2 linked regions of the Homo sapiens genome follow. The protein of the gene in region 1 purifies or fractionates together with the protein of each later gene. This does not show direct contact. Each region holds a gene or a part of one and is shown on either strand. Other genes may lie near its edges.

What was found. Proteins that work in one complex are often made in the same cells at the same time.
Region 2: the proteins of HYLS1 (region 1) and CEP120 purify together in Homo sapiens (affinity purification with mass spectrometry; one large-scale study listed by BioGRID and IntAct). This does not show direct contact.

Annotation. Positions count from the first base shown.
Region 1 is NC_000011.10:125,890,668-125,894,167, reverse strand, and holds part of HYLS1 (centriolar and ciliogenesis-associated protein HYLS1), read right to left. Parts: intron 2,746-3,500; 5' UTR 2,696-2,745; intron 684-2,695; exon of another isoform or gene 384-683; coding exon of another isoform or gene 1-383. Other genes in the region: PUS3 (tRNA pseudouridine(38/39) synthase), read left to right, coding at 1-383. UniProt on the Homo sapiens protein: Plays a role in ciliogenesis.
Region 2 is NC_000005.10:123,344,392-123,347,397, forward strand, and holds the end of CEP120 (centrosomal protein of 120 kDa), read right to left. Parts: intron 2,419-3,006; coding exon of another isoform or gene 2,363-2,418; coding exon 2,128-2,362; 3' UTR 501-2,127; downstream 1-500. UniProt on the Homo sapiens protein: Plays a role in the microtubule-dependent coupling of the nucleus and the centrosome.

The DNA.
Region 1 (3,500 bases):
ATGCTGTCAAAACTCACATGTTGTATAGTATGCTACAAGGACTGGACACTGTTCCAGTACCCTGTGGAATAGGACCAAAGATGGATGGAATGACAGAATGGGGAAATGTTAAGCCCTCTGTCATAAAGCAGACCAGTGCCTTTGTAGAAGGAGTGAAGATGCGCACATATAAGCCCCTCATGGACCGTCCTAAATGCCAAGGACTGGAATCCCGGATCCAGCATTTTGTACGTAGGGGACGAATTGAGCACCCACATTTATTCCATGAGGAAGAAACAAAAGCCAAAAGGGACTGTAATGACACACTAGAGGAAGAGAATACTAATTTGGAGACACCAACGAAGAGGGTCTGTGTTGACACAGAAATTAAAAGCATCATTTAACCATAGACAATTTGCCAGGATCTAGGAACCACCTAATGGTAGGTGGACAGAAAAGGAAAAAAAAAAAAATTTACTTGCAAGTACTAGGAATTCAGATGATCAGCTCTTAAAAGAAAAAAAAAAGCAAAAAGACTAAAGCCCTATTAAGGAAGTTATTGCTTTAATAAGAAATTTCAAATATTCTCTTATCCCGGTCCAAAAGGATTAAGCGATTAAAGAACGTAAAATGGAGATGTATTTACATACACCTGGAAACCTGTGCCTTGTATTCAAATTCATTAAAGCCTAATCCTGCAAGTATCTGATTTGTTGTGTTTTTCTCTCCAAAGCAGATAAGATATTCACTACTCATCTGAATTTTCATAAAGTGCTGCATCTGAGTGTCTTATTTTCTAAGACAGAATTTAAGAATATTAAATTCATTTAATTAAAGATTGGATAAATTGGTTTAATGCCAGGCACAAAGTTACCTACCTGGAATAAAGCACAGTACCTTATCTTACAAAGCATATAAATCTAGTGCAGAGGTTGGTAAATGTTTTCTGTGAAGGATTAATGAGTAAATGTTTTAGGCTGTGTCAACAACAAATGGCCTCTATTGCATACATGTTTTTACAATCCTTTACAAATCTAAAAAGCACTCTTAGTTCATGGGCCATGGTGTTTGCCAAGCCTTGGGCTAGTGACTATAGGCAAGTTCTTATAGAGGAGATATTGAAGCTAGATCTTGCAGAACAAGTGGGAGCCAGTTAAAATGAGGATAAAGAACCACTTTAAATGTGTCTAAGTCAGAAGATCCAGTTTGTATAAAGGGTTAGAGATGACAACATATGCATTCAGGCAGCTCAATTCTTTAATACGGCTTGAGAGTGACAAGAACATAGTTTAAAAAGGTAAGCACAGGTCACATTTGTAGAGCAAAGACATTCCTTAAAAAGCTTAGATTTTGCAGGGCCACTGAAAAAATTTACATGCCCGATAGAATTGTGTGGCAAAAATATTGCTCTGAGTATTCTGTGGATGGGAAGAGGGCAAGATTGGAGGCACTGTGACCAATTAGGGGGCTGCTGGAGTAATGGAGGCAATAGATGATGAAAATGGCCTAGAAGAGATTTTTAGTGAGGCAAATGGACAGAAGTAGATGAATTTAAGATTAAGAAAGTAGAAACAACAGGACTCAGTGAATAAATATGCTGTTCAAAACTAGGGAGGCTTTCTAGATAACTCCTAAGTTTCAGATGTGAGCAAAATGAGTGGCTGGTAGTACCACATACTGAGAGAGGAAAAATGAGATAGAGCTTTGCTTGTTCTCAAAGTTAATAAGTGATCCTCAAAATATTACTTGTGAACACCAGTATTTATTCAAAAGAACTCAGAGTTGTCTTAAATACATTATCCTTTGCAACCATAAAAATAATAAACATCAAAGTTTGAACTCAGACCTTCTTCCTCAATAATAATTTTCATTACTAAAGTGAGTGTTCACCACATTTGGAATTTTTACAAATGCCACCTCAGAGAATGAGTAATTTTGCAAACTTACATTTGAAGGCTTCTTGTTTATTTTACCTATGATGACTGTCTTGACTTATGTAGTCACTAAATTCTTACTCTTCTAGATTGGATAGTATAATCTAGTCAACCTTGAAAGATTTTACTTAAGATCTAAGACCCTGATCCTCTAATTTACAATTCTACCATGTTTATGAGATCCAAAGTTTTACTTACCAACCAATAATTAGTTTTTTCCTACCCATGTTCAAGACTTCAGGTATACAAATATGTTTTCTATCCTCAAGCTGCTAGTGCAAATAACACATGGGACAATTAAAAACAATACTAATATATAAATCATAAACTAATGCTGCATAATTGCTACAGAAGGGGGGTGGACCACAGAAATAGACTTCACTGAAACAGTTCCAGATTTAGGAAGTAAAATAGCATACAAAAGGTGAGGTGACCCTGTAGTACTAAAAAGTACATTATAATAGCTGTTATATCCTAGCAGACAGGGAACCAGAAAATACCCCATTTTAGAGATGGGGAATTAGTGGTACAAATTACTTAAGATTTATTCAAAATTGCCCATTGTATGATCCAAGTCTTCTGGATTTGAATCATTATCACTGCTTTTTGGGACCCAGTCTATCAACACTTCATTATGTCCTGAGTATTCTTAAAATATAATTACTTTGGCCTTTACTTTTGATTTAAAGATCCTCTTTTTCATGTAATCAATGATCATGGTGGAATAACTTAAATATGTAAGTGCAAACCAAGGTTTTTTTTTTTTTTTTTCAATTTCTTACCTTATTTCAATGTATCTTGATTGGTATTTACATTCAAGTAAAAAAAAAACCTAGAAAAGAAGAATAGAGTTTAAAAAAATTAACTCTGAAGCAGTGATACATGGAACAAAATGCACTAACCATAAGTCATTGTTAGGATACTGTGTAGAAGCAAAGGAATCAGAAGATCAGGGTCTTAGATCTTAAGTAAAATCCCTTCAAGTCTGGCTAGATTATATTATCCAATCTAGAAGAGTAAGAATTTAGTGACTACATTTTTGGTAGTTGCCATAGAAAAAGTCAAGACAGTCATCACAGGTGGAACAAATGGGAAGCCCCCAAATGCAACTTTGCAAAAGTACTTGCTCTCTTAGACAGCATTTGTACAAATCCGAAGTCTCTGGCCCATGGTAAGGACTAAATAAATGTTGGAATAAAGGAACTATTTAGGTTGTGAAATTTAAATGACACTTTTTATATATTTATACATAAATAACGATTTGTGAGACTCTGGGCTAGGAGGATTTTTGGCAGTAAAGCCAAGAGTTAGTTTTTTTTTTTAATGGCATGTGTCCTACTATACAGTGATTAATGTGTTATTTCCTCTGCATTTCAACTGTGTCACACTCCTATTTTTTTCCTTGAACATATGAAGATGATGTTTGCAAACAATAAATAAAATAGAAACTTTAATAAGGTCCATAGGTAACTGTCAGTTCCTTCTCTTTCTAATATAAAAGATCGAACAATCCTTTCTCTTTAGAGGGAAACTTTCACATAAAAGCTAGAGCAACTTGTATTCTGTAAACACAGACAACATTGACCG
Region 2 (3,006 bases), on another chromosome or scaffold:
AGAAATTACTAGGATTTATCTGCAAGGGAACTCCTATGTTTATACAGACATGGTATTAGATATACCTGGTAGATTACACACCCCTCCTATGCAGTACATGCCCGCATTAAACATGGAAACTAGACTTTCTCCATGAAAAACCACAGAAATTTTAAAGGTAAATCTGATTTTACCCTAAAATATTTGATATTTTCCTGTTACTAGGAAACTTATTCACCCACCCATGCCTGCACCCACTCACTGATTTATCTACTGTGGTCATACTCATTAACTCCTAGGCAAAATCAGTGTAAAAACATTCGATGCCACTTACAAATGGAATGGGTATTGCTAAAAGGACTACAAAACAGTGTTAATATTTCAGACTCCCCTAGTTGTAAGACAAAAAATAGTATGTAAACACTTGAGAAAAAAAGACAGTCATTTGAAATAGGAAAACCCGAACACTATGCCCACTCTGTTTAGAAACAGAAGTAACAGGCTGCTCAAGAACTCAGAGATGCACACAATTATGATTTTATTTGTTAAGTTACAATAGCCAAAAGAGCTTTACAAAAGGCAAAATAAACTACACATCCATTTTAGAAAAGTCCTTTTTATTTCTTTAAATCAGAGGCCCCCTCTAGCGTTTGAAAGCAGTCACAGGCAACACACAATGCAATTGAAAGTAAACAGTCACAGCATTTTACCGCAGACCTTCCAAAACATAAGGCTTGCTTCTGTTCCATTCAAGTGGCACAAAAATCAATGAGAGAAAAATAGCTAACCATAATTAATATTGCAAATTCCTGCTATGATTCAGATTCATTATCCTCTCATTCAGTAATTTCTTTATTATTTACTGCTGGGTTATTTTTTACTAGATTAATACTCTGTTAATAAGGAAAAAATATATAATAAATATAGGGACTTTAATTTCCCTAATAAGAAATATACCTCATTTGAAATGACCGAAAATTAATGTTACCATATATCCTACTCTGCTTTGATGGAAGTTATTGGTAACTTCCTAAAGTATATACTTAATTTTAACTTTATTATATTTGGAAATCAGAACTTTTTAAAGTACATATATTTTGAAATTCAACCTAATCTGTGACTTTGCTAAAACTTTTTCAGTACTCAGTAAAAGGAGGTGGGAAACGTTGCTTTGAGGACAAATGTTGGCTCTGAAGAATATGATATAAAGGAACTCTTAAGAGTTTTTATACAGACAGGGCACTGCATAAATCCAATGAGTGAATCTCGTGCGCTTTTGAAAACGATTGATTGAAATTAGCGGGAGTAAAAAATAGTTGATTTTCACTCTATTTTTTCAGCTAATGTCTTTATGTGTCTGTTTCCATGTTCTATTACAGAGGGTTTAAGCTGACAGCTAGTATTACTATAACTGGAAAATAAAAAGAAATCTCTAATTTTAACAAAAGAAAACAATGCAAACTTGAGGAAGAAACCAACAGAGAAAACTATATTAAGCTAATACTTCATGTTCTTAAAAGTTATAAATACACTGAAAATTTGAAAATTCAATAGCTCTTGAAACAAATTTAATCTGTATTAACTTTATTTAAATAAATGACCAATCTGTCACCCAACATGTCATGTGGCTTCTCTGCACTGATCTTGCTTTGTTTTCAAACTTGTCACTTGCAAATATTATAAGAAAAAAAGGTCATCTAAAATGAGTTAAACTGGTTACAATTGGTCTCAACTTTTAAGAATTTACATTCAAATGGAATAGGACGCAGCGTTTTTAAAGTGCAAGATATACTCTTTTGGCTCAACATGAAACATTATAGAACTGGAAATTACCGCAGTCATTTCTCCTACAACAAACTTAGTTAAAAGCTGTTTTGAAAGTTAGTTAGCCATCAGATTATAAACTATGAAAAACACTGAAAAGTCATTTAAAATGAGTATATAAATGCAAATTACAAATAAAACCAGTGTGGGAGAGGTAGCATAAAGTAAATAAGATCAAATAAATACTATACAATAACATACAAAATTTTGCTTATAAAAAATTGAAAATACCATTTTAAAACATCCATTTTCCTCACTTTTGAGGTTTTTACAAAGAAATTAAAATTTAGACTTAGAGTCTCTATAAAGCTTTTCCAAATGTTATTAATTACTGGCATTGCTTTTTGCCAAAATCTCTCTGATCTGTCGGTCGAGTTCACTTATTATTCGATCCTCGTGATTATACACACCCGTTCTCATCAAAGTATCCCTTTCTTCTATCAGGCGAGTCAAATAATCATCCAAACCTTCTTCCAATACACTGCCATGGGGGCCATCCTTTTTTCCACTTGCAATCTCTGTGGAATCCTGGTATTGTTTTTGCTCTTGTTGCCTTAACCTGAGAAGTCAAGAACAAATGCCACTGTAGCAACTGTGTTGGTTTTCTTAATGTCACTATTTAAAAACAAAATGATTCAATGGTAAGACAAGGTTTTAGTAATATTTTCAGGAAGAAAACAAACCAAAAAAAACCAGTGTTCCACTTGGCTAGTCAGAGTCTGCACATTTATAAAAGGCAACTTTAAAAACAATACTTGTTTTTCTAATTACAAATACATGAAAACTAGATATTTTGGAGCTGTGACAAAATACATGAAAACTAGATATTTTGGAGCTGTGTAAAGACAATAAAAATCATCTGTAATGTGATCCCAATTTGAGTAATATTTTTCTGTATTTTCAAGTTTAAAAAATGCATATATGTACTTAAAATATGTATTTTTTGAAAAACTTGATACTACATATGCAATTCTGTATACTACTTTTCTCATTTATATAGAGATTTTTTAATATCATTAAATGTTCCTCTAAATTGTTTTATAATATTCCATCATTTGGGGTATCATCATTTAGTCATCCTTTATTATTGGTCTTTAGGTTGCTCCTAAACCTTTGTTGTTGTATTGAACATATTTTTAAAAATTCATTCAACAAACATTTATTTGTGCCAAACACGTTTTGGGGATAGTGCAGTGAACCAAG